Regions from separate parts of the Homo sapiens genome. Here region 2 is linked to region 1. A link means that fine-mapping ties the variant in region 1 to the expression of a gene that starts in the linked region. Tissue or cell type: ovary. Region 1 holds a variant in brackets; the other region holds the start of a gene. All regions are shown on one strand. Distances are from middle to middle.

What was found. PIP is the estimated chance that this variant, and not a neighbour inherited with it, causes the effect.
Region 2: BASP1 starts here. The variant in region 1 is fine-mapped to the expression of BASP1 in ovary (GTEx, PIP above 0.99).

The regions. Positions count from the first base shown.
Region 1 is chr5:17,391,484-17,399,589 of GRCh38, forward strand. No RefSeq gene overlaps it. Among named protein-coding and RNA genes, the nearest start is that of LINC02111, 8.2 kb to the left of the region's middle. The variant A/G (reference allele first, on the strand shown) is at 4,181.
Region 2 is chr5:17,213,844-17,221,949 of GRCh38, forward strand. It overlaps BASP1 (brain abundant membrane attached signal protein 1), which reads left to right and starts at 3,788. Exons shown (of 2, transcript NM_006317.5): 1 at 3,788-3,967. It overlaps BASP1-AS1 (BASP1 antisense RNA 1), which reads right to left and starts at 3,579. Exons shown (of 3, transcript NR_027253.1): 1 at 2,234-3,579. RefSeq lists silencers at 3,584-4,063, 4,554-4,873 and an enhancer at 4,908-5,688.

The sequences.
Region 1 (8,106 bases):
CTTTCCTCCCTATTGTGGTCCCATTTTGAATCTTTCAACCTTATTCCAATTCCTTATTTCTCATCTAGTTGACATGGATGGGAAATTGATCAGCCGCAAACCATTTCCTTGGGAGAGAGAAAGATATGATTATTTTATAAAAATATGCCAAATTTTCTTGATGATCTAACATCATGCTTACCTGACAGAAGGGCAGGGGGAAAGAGCTGGTACTCACCTTGACACCTGTCTGTACCCGATGAGGGGCAGCCTGACTGTGGGTGAATATCGTGCCGAGGGCTGAAGTAGTTTTTATTTTAATCATTTACAAAGAAAAAGCTTCCCAAAGAAATCAGAGATGTTTCTCAGGTGCTAGGTCTGCAGTCATGCTTCTGATCTGTTCAGCACCCATAAAAGGTGCCACAGGCTCCACTGCAAAGCAATGTGTAAGTTTTGGATTATGTGAGACCCTGAATGCAAATGGGGAACTCAGAGGATGGTGGAAAGCCAGTTCCATGTTGGCAGGAAAGTATTCTAGTGTTTTCCCCTCTAGATCTCCAACATGTTTATAGCACATAATAAGCACTAAATAGATATATATTAACTGATTTTGAGTAACCAGGTCATATGTAGAACAGTTAAACATAGACATAGAGGTAAAAGGAAAAAAATAAAAAGGCTGGGTGCGGAGGCTCATGCCTGTAATCCCAGCACTTTGGGAGGCCGAGGTGGGAGGATTGCTTGAGCCCAAGAGTTTGAGACCAGCCTAGGTAACATAGTGAAAAAATTAGCCAGGTGTGGTAGCACATGCCTGTAGTCCCAGTTACTTGGGAAGCTGAGGTGTGAGGATCATTTGAGCCAAGGAAGTCAAGGCTGCAGTGAGCCCGTGATCTTACCACTGTACTCCAGTCTGGGCAGTAGAGCGAGACCTTGTCTCAAAAAAAAAAGTAAAATTAAAAAATTTGACCTGAATGGCTAGCTACTTACTAAATTTAATCCTTGCACCCTGAAAAGACTTAGTACATGTTCCTTTATACCATTAACTGATATCCAAATAACTTGTAATAACTATCTTAATAATTCTACAGCAGCAATTTGAGTCTCCTTAAAAATTGTCAAGCATTTTCTTTTGTTAGTCTGTTCTGGGGTAATGAGTCACAAGTAGTAATTACTGGGTGGGAATTCATTTTTTTTTCTTTTTTCTTTTTAAATACAATGTTAAGCATGTTGTATTAATATTAAATAATTCTAAAGAGTGTTTCAATAATTTGGAAGTTATTAATGATTGGTGGATGAAAAGATTTTATCCAGTTGTCCAAGCATATGGCAAAAGAAAACTGGCTTAAGTTGTTGAATTTCTGTTTTCATTTTCCATTGAATTACTGTTTAAAAATGGAACTGGAGAACATGTAATTACTCCAATGGAATGATCATGGGACATCAAAAAACTTGTTGCCCTAGGTGGTTAACTGCATGACTAAGAGACAACAATGGGGTGGACAAGGTGAACCTTGTTCAGTAGTGATCTCAATTGCATTTTGGTTCTGTAAAGCGCAAATAGGTTAACTGAATACCAAAGAGTAGTGAACTGCCTATGATTTGCATCTTTATATGATGGCTAAGAATTCAAGAAATTGGAATATAGTATTTATAACACTCTGTGACCACGACCACAATGTCCCATCAATTTCCTAGACTTCTGAGTGTAGGAAAACAGAAAAGGCCATATTCTCAACTTATGTAATTGATAACTACTAATTTTCTAACAATTTTCCAATGATTGCTTGCTATAAAAATGTAAAATGGAGCCAGAAGCTTTAGCATATATTATTCACACTGTAATTTTGGTTTATTTCCTTCTAGACTTTTTTCCATATTTTTTAGAACAGTTGTAATCATGTTGTACATATAATCTACCCTTATTTTTTAAAACCTACTGTTATAAATGTTACTTATGTTTAAAATAGCAAAAAAAAAAAACTATCTTGAAGATATTGGTTATAAAGATGATATAATTTATTTTATAATTTCCATATGGCTGGCTATCTAGATTATCTATTTTTTATTTTTGCAATGAGACAGATATTGCTGTGCATTGATTTTTTGCACACATTTTTTTCCAGGATTTTGCCTGTTTTCTTAGAAGAACATTCTACAAGGAAAATTAATGGGTGGAAGTTTATAAACCTATTCATAATGACTCTTGAAGCAAATATTATTCAGGATCTTTTTTTTTTTTTTTTTTTTTTTTTTTTTGAGACCGTCTCACTCTGTTGCCCAGGCTGGAGTGCAGTGGCATGATCATGGCTAACGGCAACCTTTGCCTCCCTGGGCTCAGGTGATTCTCACACCTCAGTTTCCTGAGTAGCTGTGTCTACAGGTGTGTACCACTATGCTTTGCTAATTTTTGCATTTTTAGTAGGGACAAAGTTTTGCCATGTTGCCAAGGCTGGTCTTGAACTCCTGGCCTTAAGAGATCTGCTTACTTCAGCCTCCCAAAGTGCTAGGATTAAAGGCATGAGCCACCACACTTTGCCAGACCTATTTGTTTTCAAGTGACATTAACTAGCTTAAAAATAAAGGGAAAATTTATTAGAAGCAAACAATTATATCTTATGTAACAGGAGAAAGTGCATCTAGATGGCTAGAATCAGAGACTTAAGTCCACCAGAACTTTCTCTGACTCTAATTTCTTTACAAGGCTCAGCAGTCAGCCTCATTTCATTCATTTGCTGGCCGGAATTACTGCTCTAGAATTGAAGTAGTTTTTCCACACCTGGTGCCTCAGCTGGAATGTCTACAATGTCTGTGGGCTTGCCAGATCTCTCTCTCTCTCTCCATGTTTTCTCTCATCATTCTGTAGCCCAACTCAAGATTCTTTACATATTAGTTGTCTTCTAAAAGTGCAAAACATGGGAGATGCAAGATCCCTTAAGTCACACAACACTTCAACTCTGTTGCATTTGTCAAAGCAAGTCACAGGCTAGGCCAGATTCAAGGAGAGGGGGAATGGGCTTCACCATCTGATGGGAGGAGTGGCATGGATGATGGTTACTTTTATGTGTCAACTTGACTGGACCACAAGGTGCCCAGATATTTGTCTCTGCATGATTCTGGGTATGTCTATGAGGGGTTTCTGGATAAGATTAACATTTGAATCGGTAGATCACGTAAAATGAGTTGTCCTCTCTAATTTGTGTGGACCTCCTCCACTCAGTTGAAGGCCTGAACAGAACAAAGAAGCGGAGGTCAAGAGAGAACTCCTCCTGAACTGTGGGGTCAGGAAAGGCTGGGGTGCCGTGGAAATTAGCTTCAAAGGTTTTTCAAAGTTTATTGCTTGGTGTAGGTAATAGGGTCGATTCTCTGTAGAAGGACTTTTTCTTCTCTATATTCCTCCAACATAGTACGTTTTCCCCTGGTCTGGAGCAGGATGCTTTCTTAGTTTATGATGCAACGACTTCACAGTGGATGTCTGCTTTATTTCTTTTTGAAATTCCATGAACTTTGAAATGAGTTCTTTTTACTTTGAGTTCTTCATATACATGTAAACAAAATGTTTTCCTGAATCCAAACAACCAGAGCTTTAAATTTTGAATAACTGTGAGAAAAATTGAGTACTTGAGATTCAAAGAAAAACACAGGCAAAGTCTCTGACATCGTTCCCCATCCCAAAGCTAACTTTGATGGTAAGTCATTAAACCGAGATTCTCTCAGGACCTGGGGCAGAAAACTGCACTAGGATGTTTTTTGTTTGGTTCAGGTTGGGTAACATTGGCATGTGATAGAAGTTATCTTTTGAATTAGCTCAAGAATAAGAGGTTCACTTTTATGAGCAGGGAGTTTCAGTATGGTTTGTGTCATGAATAATCCTGCCTGACATGGACCATGACCCTTGAACATTCTGAAATGCAGGAAAATTCTAAGTCTTCATAAGATAAACAAGGAGCAGCATCTTGTTACTTTTTCTTTCCAATTTAAAGTATTATACTTCGGACTCTATGTTATACATAGAATTTTAAATGTGGGTTTATATTTAGACTTGAATATGGTAGAAAACAAGGCTTGATATGTTCTGCTTCATAATGACACATCTATATCTATCTATCTATCTCTCTATATATATTTTGTAATACACTTTTTATTTTGGAAAAATCTGGGGTTTACAGAAAAGTTCTAAAGATAGCACAGACAGTCCCTGTAT[A/G]ATTCTCTTGCAGCTTTGCTTTCCCTTCATGTTATCAGTTCACATTACTGTGGTGTATTTGTCAAAACTGAGTAACCACCATTGGTGCGTTACTAGTAGCTAAACTCCAGCCTATATTTAAGTTTCACTAGTTTTTTCCTAATGTCTTTTTCTATCCCAGGATCCTAACCAGGCTACCACGTTGCATTTAGTTGTCACATCTCCTTTGGTCTGTGACAGTTTCTCAGTCTTTTTTTTTTTTGAGCTGGAGTCTCACTCTGTCACCCAGGCTGGGGTGCAGTGTTGGAATCTTGGTTCACTGCAACCTCTGTCCCCCGGATTCAAGTGATTCTCCTGCTTCAGCCTCCCGAGTAGCTGGGATTATAGGCATGCACCACTACACCTGATTAATTTTTGTAATTTTTTTTGTTATTGTTTTTAGTAGATACAGGGTTTCATGATTTTGGCTAGGCTGCTCTTGAACTCCTGACCTCAGGTGATCCACCTGCCTTGGCCTTCCAAAGTGCTGGGATTACAGGCGTGAGCCAGCTCACCCAGCCTCAGTCTTTTCTTGTGTTTCATCATCTTGAAAGTTTTGAGAGTATTGGACAAGTGTGGTATAGACTATTCTTCAATTTTGGCTTGTCTGATGTTTTTCTTAAGATTAGATTCGGGTTATGGGTTTCGGGGTAGAGTAACACAGGGGCAAAACACCATTCTCATCACATCTTATCAGAGTTACATGACATACACGTGATTTATCACTAGCGATGTTGTCCTTGATCATTTGGGTAAGATCATGCTTACCAGCTGTGTACACTGTAAAGTTACTATGTTTCACTTTCTTTGAAGTGAGTCAGTATGTCCTGCCCACACTCAAGGGAGTGGGAGGGATGGAGCTTTACCCCTTGCTTATTTGGAATGCAAAATAATATTTTGGTAATGTTTTCAATTTCAGTGGACCAGTATTTTGTGTGTTTGAAGACAGGAAATAAATAAAGTCCTGGTACAAGCTCTTCCTTTTTGTTTCTGTTCTGAGTAAAGGGCTTGTGTCCAATGCCTTGCTGACTCTCCTGAATATTTTGTCTAAAACACCCAACAATGTTGACCTATGCAGGATTATGATGGAAGTAAGTAGAAAGAGGTTTGCATATTATTTTGAATGCATTTTCATCTTCAGATGAAGTAAAGATGAATCCCGTACTAGTTTGTTCTCACACTGCTATAAAGAAATATCTGAGACTGGGTAATTCATAAAGAAAAGAGGTTTAATTGGATCATGGTTCTGCAGGCTGTATAGGAAGCACAATGCTGGAATCTGCTCAGGTTCTGGGAAGGCCTCAGGAAACTTACAGTCATGGCAGAAGGTGAAGGAGAAGCAGGCTTGTCTTACATGGCTGGAGCAGGAGGAAGAGAGATGGGGGAGGTGCCACACACCATTAAAAAAACAGATCTTGTGATAATTCACTATCACCACAACAGCACCCAGTGGGATGGTGCTCAAGTATGAGAAACCACTCCCATGACCCAATCACCTCCCACCAGGCCCCACCTCCAACACCAGGGATTACAATTGAACATGAGATTTGGGTGGTGACACAGACTCAAACCATATCAAATTCTAAATATGGAAATGTAATAAACTCATTGATTTATTTTTTATTTTTGAGACGGTGTCTCACTCTGTTGTCCAGGCTGGAGTGCAGTGGTGCAATCTCGGCTCATTGCAACCTCCACCTCCTGAGTTCAAGCGATTCTCCTGCCTCAGCCTCCTGAGTAGCTGGGATTACAGGTATGCACCTGGCTAAATTTTGTATTTTAGTAGAGACAGGGTTTCACCCTGTTGGTCAGGCTGGTCTCAAACTCCTGACCTTGTGATCCAGCTGCCTCGGCCTCCCAAAGTGCTGGGATTACAGGCGTGAACCGCAGTGCCCGGCCAACTCATTGATTTTAAACCAAAGTTAGGGTTTGACAAACTCCATCTAGCCACACGGTTCTCTGTCTCAGTTTTAGCTTTGTCTTCCTATGCATGCTCAGTGATCAGCTGGCAAACAGGTTCCTAGCTGGATGAGCATTCTTGCCTCCTCCCTCAGACCTTAGCATGGACACCCAGGGTAGATATTAGGGGTTGAATTGTGTCCTTTCTCCCCCAAATTCATATGTTGAAGCCCTAAACCCCTGTACTTCAAAATGTGACCTTATGTGGAAATTGGGTCTTTGCAGGTTAGTTAAGATGAGGCCATTAAGGTGGACTCTAGTCCTAGGTGACTGTTGTCCTTAACAAAAGGGGCTATTTGGTGACATAGATTGGGCACACAGGAAGAACCTCATGTGAGGACGAAGGGAGAGATTAGGATGATACTTCTGTAAGGCAGGAGAATCGTTTGAACCCAGCATCAGATGTTTGGCAAGAGACATTGAGCAGGTTCTGTCTCACAGCCCTCAGAAGGAACCAACCCTGCCAGTACCTTGATCTTGGACCTCTATTCTCCAGGACTGTAAGACAACACATTTCTGTTGTTTAGGCCACCCAGTTTGTGGTACATTGTTACAGCATCACTAGGATTATCAGATAATGGAAGTTGAACTGAGCAACCCAGCTTTTGTGACCCCAAACATGGTTGGTGGTAGGGCTTTATCTTGGTCACAGGCTCTAGAAGAATCTGCACTTGTCATTTACTATAAGCCCTTCACAACTGGACTCTTCTACTCAATGCTTATTCAAGATTTTTTTTCAGGTGCTGATCTTATTGAAATTTGTAGTATTAATATTTTAGAACTGTATATAATGTATTTACCTTCCAAAATTTCCTTCAATGCCTGACAGCTTTCTATCTACTGACCCAATTGTGATGACAAACCAATGCTGGCTTTGGTAGTCAAATTCCTGACCACATGCTAATGGTTGACTCATTCAGTTTTTTGCCTGCAGATTTAGTCTCAACGAAATGAGCCACACTTTTTTTCTTACAAAGCAGCATTACCTTCTGGGGAGAATGAAATGTGGTTTTTCTTTGACAGATAAGTGGGAAAACCATCTGTGCATTTCCCGTCTGAATCAAGCTTAAGCCCCTCCCCTAGTCATCCAGGGCTGCATTAACCATGGACTACCGGTGCCCCAGCAAGGGGAGGCTGTGGATGTGGATAACTCCACACAGCTGTGCCTGGAGGCTGACGGACTATGGCAGATATTTCTCCACTTTATTCAGGGACCAGAATATGTTCACTTTGCTTGGAGGAACTGATTAATTAAGTGATGGACTGGAGAACAAAGAGGTAGCGGTTGATTATATTCATTAGAGGAAATAGAAAATTAACTCCTTAATTAAGGTATTATATTGTCATACTTCAATATCACATATTCTGCACTTCCTTAAAAGAGTTCAGTGTATTTCTTTTGCATGCCTGGTAATAACCTCAGGAAGCAGGACTGACTGAATATCATGATGTCTATTTAGCATTTAAAGGAACTGAAAAGTGGAAATGTACACGTCTCTTTCCCCCCTACTCTAAAGTTTAATTCAAATGCAATTGCAACCAACATTTCACTAGGAAGGTGGCTTGTACATTTGAATAGACAAATGGATATTTGGCACTTCTGTCCATTTTTCAACAAACTGTTGTCAAGTACAATTTTGGTAGCTTGAGGGTTGCAGAAGGTGCAACAGGTGGCTGCACCTCAGCTCTTCCTTCTCTAAAGGAAGAAATGCAAGACTGGGAAGATTGTTCTCTAACTGTGGCAGGTAAACACGGTCTGCTCCCAAAGTGAGTTGAGACCACTGGGGAATGGACTCTGTGCCCATGATTATAGAATTGAGATTACCAGTTGGGAAATTAGAGGCAACTTTCAGGTTTGTATAGCATATAGTTTGCTGAATCCAATTCCTATCTATCCTATATATTAGGATTTTCATTTTTAGAGCAAAAATTTGAGTTCGTCCCTCAAA
Region 2 (8,106 bases), 180 kb before region 1:
ATAAGATTTTGTAAACAAATTGCAGCAAGTTGGTCCTCCACGGAAAACTTACCAGTAGAGCTGAATTTACTTTCAAATTCTCTAAATGGGTTTCTGAGGGTTTGGGTTAATGCAGTGGCCTTGAACAGGAACTATCCAGAAAGATGTCAAGCAAAGGTGGCTAGAGTCACACTCGGGTGACACTACTGTCACCATGCTTCTGCTTCATTCTTGTTCTACATCTTTTATTTGAGATTTTAATCCTCTTTTTACTATTTAAGAGGAAAGGATGGGGAACTGAGAAAGACGCTAGGCCTTGGTGGGTGATGTGGGAGGTGGGGAGAGGGAAGATAAGAGTGAGGTTTTGAGGCTTGATGAGGTCTGTATAATTATCTATTGTAGGTGTCTTAGTTGACACAATAGATATGATTTGAAAAGCTGAAGGCACATGGAAATTTTTGTAAACTGACTAGTAATTTAAATGACAATGAGACCATTATATTGCAAGCAAAGACAAATCTTTTAGAAAAAAATTAGTAATCACGAATAATTTATCTTTTGGATAATGATTTTCATAATGCAGGTTATGCTTCCCTGGAGCAAGTTATGCAGGCAATTAAAAATGACAATGGAATTCAGTTTATAACCGATGAAATCCAGCTTTGTTTGTCAAAAACAAATGCATTCATTCCATTTGGAGAGTAAAACAGTCTTTTTTTCATGAGCATAATGGTGAAAGCTAATTAAATTTATCATAAATTACACCCTTAATATTTGTTCTCAAGATCATTAGTCTATAATGTAAACAGACACATTCACAATAGTTAATGTTAACAGTTTTCTAAAATTCAGAACTTTAAAGGTTTATTCATTTATTCCCTAAGCATCAGTTTAAAAAAATGTTTTAAAGAGCATACACATTAAAAAGTATGATATTAGATGAACAACTAAAAATTAGACTAAAAACATCGCCAAATTGGATTTTATATAGTAATATTGTTACATTGAGAGGTAACATTTTGGCAACCATTTGCTGCAAACCTACAAATTCTGTAAAAGCTTCTAAAGATTAATAGCACTATCAGTCAGTTGCATCATTATCTCATTGAAAATGAATTCTCACCCTCCTTTAAAAAAATTTAAAAAAATGTTTTAAGAGAACAACTAAATCTGATGGAAGACAAAATTAAGGAGACCTGCAGTTCTCCTTGTTGGTGTAAGCTTTTGCCTCCGGTTTCTATGGTAACCCGTGATCTGTATTCCAATCACACCTTTGAAAGGTTTGTTTTCTCCATCATGAAAATTTAGCTGGAAGCACTGAAGGTACTGAACATTAATTTTTATGTTGTCTTTTTTTTTTGGAAAAATTGGAAAAAGAGAATAGAGAAGGAAGATAACACCCACAGGCTTAGACTGCAAATACAATGAGGAAATGTATTTGCTAATTTTTAGATGATTTACATGCCTGGAAGATCACAAGGATAAAAACCCTGAATGCTAAATGAACAAGTAGGCAGCTCCTCTAACAAACTCAGGAAATGTCTTGAGCAGAACATTGCAAATATTCATCTAATTCGATAGGGTAAAAACCTAGAGACTTGCTCATAGAGGTTGAAAGAAAATGTAGCTCAGTGGTTTTCAGCCTGGAGTGATTTTGCCTCCCAGGAGACATTTGGCGATATCTGGGGACATTTTTGGTTGTCACAACTGGTGCTGGTGCTGGTGGTGTGTGTGGAGGGTGGTACTGGCTGCTAGTAGAGGCCAGCAATGAATGCCAGACATCCTACAGTGCATAGGACAGCCTTCCACAACAAAGAAATATCTGGCCCCAAAAGGAGGTGGGAAAACCTGCATCCTCCATTTAGCTTTATAGATGGTGTACTGGTGTGAGGGAAATAAATATTCAAAAGAATAAAATGCTTTAGAAGCAACCTCATTTGTAATTTGCTTCCCTGGTATTTTACTACACTAACTTTTTATTTCACTTTAAATGGCAGAAAGAGAAACAGGAAAAAACAAACAGTTCCCGCTTTTTTCTTACCTTTGGTTTAAATTTGAACATTTCCAGCTGGCATGCATTAATCTAATTTGGTGCTGCCTCCTATGACCTGTAAATGTGTACAGTAGGGTCGTCAAGTGTTTCCACTGCAAAATCGCTAGTGCAGTTGAGTAAATATTGCCACTTTGCTTAATTCAAATATGTACGTTAAAGTTACGATAAGTTAATTTTCCTGTTAAGTGAAAATGCACTTACCTTTACCCAGTTGAATACAGATGTACTTGCCTTTGACGTCTGCCTCCCTAAGTATGGTTACAGTTTGTCACTCCGGTTCTGGAGGGCCACCCTGTCCCTGAATTCACGCCCAGGTCCTGAGGGCAGAACCATCCTGAGGACAACCTGCAGCTCCATCGATTTTTTCTTGGCTGGGACGCAGGCGAGCATGAAAGCGATCCAAACACAGCCAGAGGGCGCCAAAATGCCGCAAATAAAAGTTCCAAAGGCGTCAACTGGCTTTTGCGGGAAGGTAAAATTGGCTTTTGTGTAATCAAAGAGCTACCGTTGTCAACGATGTCACGTTACGTTATTTTTGTATGTCCCTCTTGCCAACAGGTAAGCAAAGTGAACGCATCTTCCTACCCCGGTGGCTATTCTGTGTCCCGGTGCTAAACCAAGTGTCCGCCCCCTTAGGGCACCCGGACAAGCCGCGGTTGGCCCTAGCTTTGACTCGAGCGCTCGCAAGCAGCAGCGTGCGGGCTGCCTCGGCCAACCCCGTCTTCTCAATATTGGTGGCCTCCATTAAAGCACAGACATCAAAAACATCGACGGCCCCTTTCCCCTCTTCTCTTCCCTCCTTCCTCTCCCAAGTTCCGAGAGCATCCTCCGAGGGGCGACGTCTCTCGCCCCACCAGCTGGACCTCGGCGACCGCGCCTCCCCCGAAGCTGCAGCCTTCGGGGCTGAGCCCCGCGGGTGCGGGTGCAGGTGCGGAGCCGCCCAAGGTGCGCAACTCGTTTGCAGCGGCGCAGCCCAGACGCGCCTGCAGCTGGGGCTCACCCCAACCTCGCTGCCAGCCGAGGTAGCGGAATCGTAGTCGACGTCGGGAGCGGGCTGGACTGGGGTCTGAGAAGGGTAGCTGGTGCCAGGGGGTGTCATTCATCACCTCGAGGCAGCTCCCTAAGTCTGAGCGAGAGCCCGAGCACTTCTTATCCAACGGTTCCAAATAAATGAGGGGGAGAGAGAGAGAGAGAGTGAGAGAGAGAGAGAGAGAGAGAGAGTGAGTGAGAGAGTGAGAGAGTGGGAGAAGTCCACGGACAGCCCAGGCGGCGCGGCGGGGGAAGGGGGACGCAGGAATGGAGGAGAGGAGAGGGGAGGCGGAGGGGGGATCTGAATAGAGGGCATTTAGGAAACGTTGGCGGGGCACAGAGTTGGGAGGTGGGGGGAAGGGAGGAACCAGGATGGCGGATAGGAGAGAAATGGGGGTGACTGTGCTGGAGGGGAGGGGAGGTGGGGGCCCAGAGCTGGGGGGAGTCAAGGGGAGGCGGGCGTGTCCAGGCTGGAGGGGAGAGGGGAGGGTCTGCGCCGGAGGAGGGGAGGGGAGCAGAGGGAGTGCAGGGGGTGGGGAGATGGAGCTGGAGGGGGTGGAGGGGAGACGGGCGGGGCGCCGGGCTGGAGGGAGGGGAGAGAGGCGGGCGGGGAGCGCGGGAGGAGGGAGGCTGGGCGGGCGGACGCGCGGGGGGAGGGCACTGGGCAGGAAGGGGAGGGGGAGCGAGCGCGAGAAATGCAGAGGCTGCAGCGGCGGCGGCGGCGGCAGTAGCGGCAGCGGCGACGACGGCGGCGGCAGCGCTCCAACTGGCTCCTCGCTCCGGGCTCCGCCGTCGAGCCGGGAGAGAGCCTCCGCCAGCGGCCAGGCACCAGCCAGACGACGCCAGCGACCCCGGCCTCTCGGCGGCACCGCGCTAACTCAGGGGCTGCATAGGCACCCAGAGCCGGTAAGGAGGCGCGCCCGGTGGCCCCGCGCCGCCGCGGACCCGGGGGCCTCCGTCCCCCACCGCGCCGCGCCCCGCCCCGCAGCCCCCGGGCTCTCCCTTCATGCAGCGGGCAGCAGGGATGTGGGCCCGGATTGGACGGCAAGGGCCTGGGGTCCCTCTGTGAGGGCTCCGTCGCACTTCGGGGATCCCGGGTGATGGGGGGCCCAGAAGTGGGAGGCTTCAGCCGCTCGCATGGTGGAGGGGTGAGGGGGGCGGCGAGGTTGGTAAACGGAGCTGGGGGGAGGGGGCTGTCGGGGAGAGGAGCTGCGGGTGACGGGAGGAATTGCCGAATGCGAAACCCCCTCAGTGCGTTGAGTCCCGGGGAGACGGTTCTGTGGGCTGAAGGGAGCGCTTCCGTCATCGGAGCCCTTACCAGCCTGGGAGAAAGCGCTCGGGGCGAGGGGCGCAGCAGCCAAAGATGGAGGGTGGGGGTGGGGTGGGGCGGGAGTCCGGGGAGAAAGAAGATGGGGAATCTGGCCCGATCAGAAGGAAGTGGGTGGCTTTTTGCTTTGGCAAACGGGTTTTCTCGACCCATGGGACTCCTGGATCTTGGTTCTGGGGCCAAGGAATACGAGGTTCACACGGCGACGTGCACTCAGAAGCACCTCCCGAGCAGATCGGAGCCCCAGCCTCGTCAGTGGCGGAATTGCCTTCCTACGAACCCGTGGGCTGCCTCGGAGCAGTTTGTTTTTTCGAGCCTTTGGTTCCAAGAATGCGCCAGGCGCCTCCGCCCTGGGTCCCGGCCCCGGCCCGGGCCCGGGGGGTGTGGGCTTGAACCTGACAGCGCGCGGCCCTAACTGGGCTCAGCCCCGCTGGGAGCGTAGGGTTGGGGTTGAGCAGCTTTTGCCCAAAGCGCTAAAGCTGAAACCCGGCGCCCGGTTCCTGCTCCCCCCGCCCCCGTCCCCCCTCCATTTCCAGAAAAATAAAAATTGCGGAATCCTGGATCCGATCGCACGCACAATGCGCGGCTGCAAACCGCATTCTTTTCATGAATATTCATCGAACGCTTGGCCAGGCTCCTTATCTGCGTCCCCAGAGACATTTCCGCCTTGAAACGAACTCGGTGGACAGCCCTTGCCCATGTAATTCTCACTCTGCTGAAATTAGCACAGCACACATGGGTGCATTTTTTAGGACCTTGTACAGGTTGACAACACCTCTGTCTCCCCCGCGGCCACTCGCACTGTGGGGCGGGCTAAAACCCAACACTAGCGTCGAAATGGCCTTCTGCTATAGGGTTGTGGACCGACCCCCCACCCCCACCTCCCGGGATTACAGCCCGGGCCAACAGACCCCCAGTATACTGCAGGCAAAATGAATGAATCGGGACTGTAATTACCTATTCCTTTGTCTTGGCCTCGCGCATGCGCCGGAGAGCAGGGTGTGGAGGGCCCGGCAGCCCCATCCCATCTCCATCATCCAGCCACCCACTCCCCTCCCGAGCCGAGGAACAAAGGCGTTTGCCCTAAATGTTGCGGGAAACCCTTGGACACCAATGACAGTTTTTCCCGCCTGTGTGTGTGTTTCTTCTTTTCCAGGCTGTCTCTCATCTTTTGCTTTCTTGCTGATTTCAATTGACCAAAATTAAGATTTGCCTTGATGAGGATGAAGGCAAATTGTGGATTAAATATTTTGTACCCGCACACTGTTATTTTCCTTTCTAGTACTGTTCATTGTTCTTTTTCCTGTAACATATCTTACTGCAGTGAGGGTGGCTTTCTTAATTTGCATCAATTAACCGTTTGACAGATCTTTTTTGGTCATTTGATTAAGGGAAGGTGGCCTCAAAACTGTCAGTGGGCGTTGCCTCCAGTGACACCACCTGGGGAAAATTAAGACATCTTGGCGTTTATTCGAACAAGATGGCCTACAAAAACCGGAGAGAAGAAAACGATTACCTTGTCGGGATCCTAACCCTTTCTGTTTTCTCTGGACTCCGAACTCATTGTTTCATTAAGGATTCCAAAAGGCGAATGGCGTCCAGATGGAAATCTGATGGGGGCAGAAAGAAGGCAGTCGTTGGGGTGAAGCTGGTTGATTAGGTTCGCAATGATTCCTTTTTCCCCATTACCTAACAGAAGCCATGATATACCTTTGATGGCTGATTTTCTTTCAGATGATCTATTTTCCAGGTTATGGCCATTTAGATTTATTTTCAGGTAGTTTGTTTTTACCACACAAAAAGGGACTTATTGTGTATATTAAATAGGAGCCAAATATGATATTTTTTGCAGTGGTAGGTTATGTTTAATAGGGTTTTATGCTTAAGTACTGTCAGTACATCCTGGTGGAATAACGCGTGGCAGCAATGGAAATCATCTCTTTTGTCCTTTTTGATGAGAACTTGATATTGACCACGTTTAATATATCAGGGCCCATCTACTGGCTACGGTGGCTGTCTAGCTGTCTTCTAGGTGGCATGGATTGTACCCTCTGTACTCCTTAGTATTGAGTAGGTTATTATGATTTAGAGAGCTACGTTCTTTCTTTTTTCTTTTCCTTTAGGTTGTGTTTTTGGCGAGGGGTATGTTGGAATATAGAACAAATTCAATAGCAAATATATACCAGCATGTCCCCAATTCAGTAAATCTTAGGTTTTTGAGTGAGATAATATTTAAATCGATTTTTAAAAATTATTACAGAATTAAAATATTTCTATCAGTTCGCTTATTCTTTTAGCCAGCTAGCTTTTTGCCAAGCTTTAGCAGATAGAGAAATTGAGCCTTTTGATAAAAAGCACCAACAATGACAGTGGCATTTCTGTTCTTTAACTGGTACTCAGTCTGCCATTGTGACGTGTAGAAGAGAACCTTATCTCCCCACATCACCCTAGTTTAAAGGTCCAATGGGAGAGCCCTAAACATTTAGGCTGTCTATCCTTGGAGGCCTCTTCATAATCCTGGATTTACTAGGATCCATAATCCTCCTGGATCTTATGGTGCAAGAGGTGATGCGTTCTGTCTCTTTATTTTTTAATTTCACAATTAAGAACAGTTTGAAGCCATTTTCATTTCATGGTCAAGCGGAGTATGACATCAGAGAGAAACTTTCATTTGGAGGAGATTTGATCACTCTAAAATGGATGTCTGTGTTATTTACGGTAGTTTTGTAAAAATTGCAAAATCCACACCCATTTTTAAAAACAAGGTGTCATGTATATACACATGTACACATACACATACTTGTTTATACACACTCTAAAATCTTATGAATAACTTGAAATCAAACTGGTTGGTATAGAATATTATTTTATAGTGCTTTGATACTGGTCTTTGGAACATAATCAATTTCTGTCTTTCTAAATATGTGTTTGAAAGGGAAAGCCTAGCAAGTCTATTAATAAGCTCACTTCCCATTTATCCCAGTGTACCTGGAGCATTAAGCTAAGACGTTCATCCACAGGCTTAAAAACTTACATCAAGCACTACTGAACTTTACAAGCTGGAATAAACAATGCCTACTAAATAAAAGATTTATAAAATTGTTCTGTCTTATTTTTGTGATCTCTTGTAAATGTTTTTTTTTTTTTTTTTTTTAAATATCCAAAGAAGACCTGTGAACTATTATTTGTCAGAAGCAATTGCCCTTGGTATCTGATTCTGTTGAAAGAAATGCGTTGATTTGTCCAGACCTTTATCTTAATGTAGTTTGTACCTACTTATTTCACATCTTCTTTCTCTTCTTAATGATGGTCTTAGCTGGTACCCTGGAAACCAGGTAACTGCTGGGGAAAAACACTGAGTAGATATATAGACAACTTGAATATTCTCTGAAAATGGGCATGGAATCTTTATTGTTATATCAAATTTTCTCTAATTATATCTAATCCTTTAAATTTATTGTATCTCTTAAGACATTAGATAAGCCAGTGAACATGAGCTTTTTTCTTTGGCTTAATTATAGTGGACAACTATTAGGAAGGAACTGTGAGGTTGCAAATAGAATATTTTGAAAGATAAAGTACTCTTTATGTGTTTTGGGGTAATGTTTTTGGAGTGGTTTCTCAGGAAATCGTATAAAGACTGGATTTGAAGAATCTAATAATTCCTATTTTGGGGTTGTAATAAGAACTACATATGATATCTAAAAATGACTTAAGT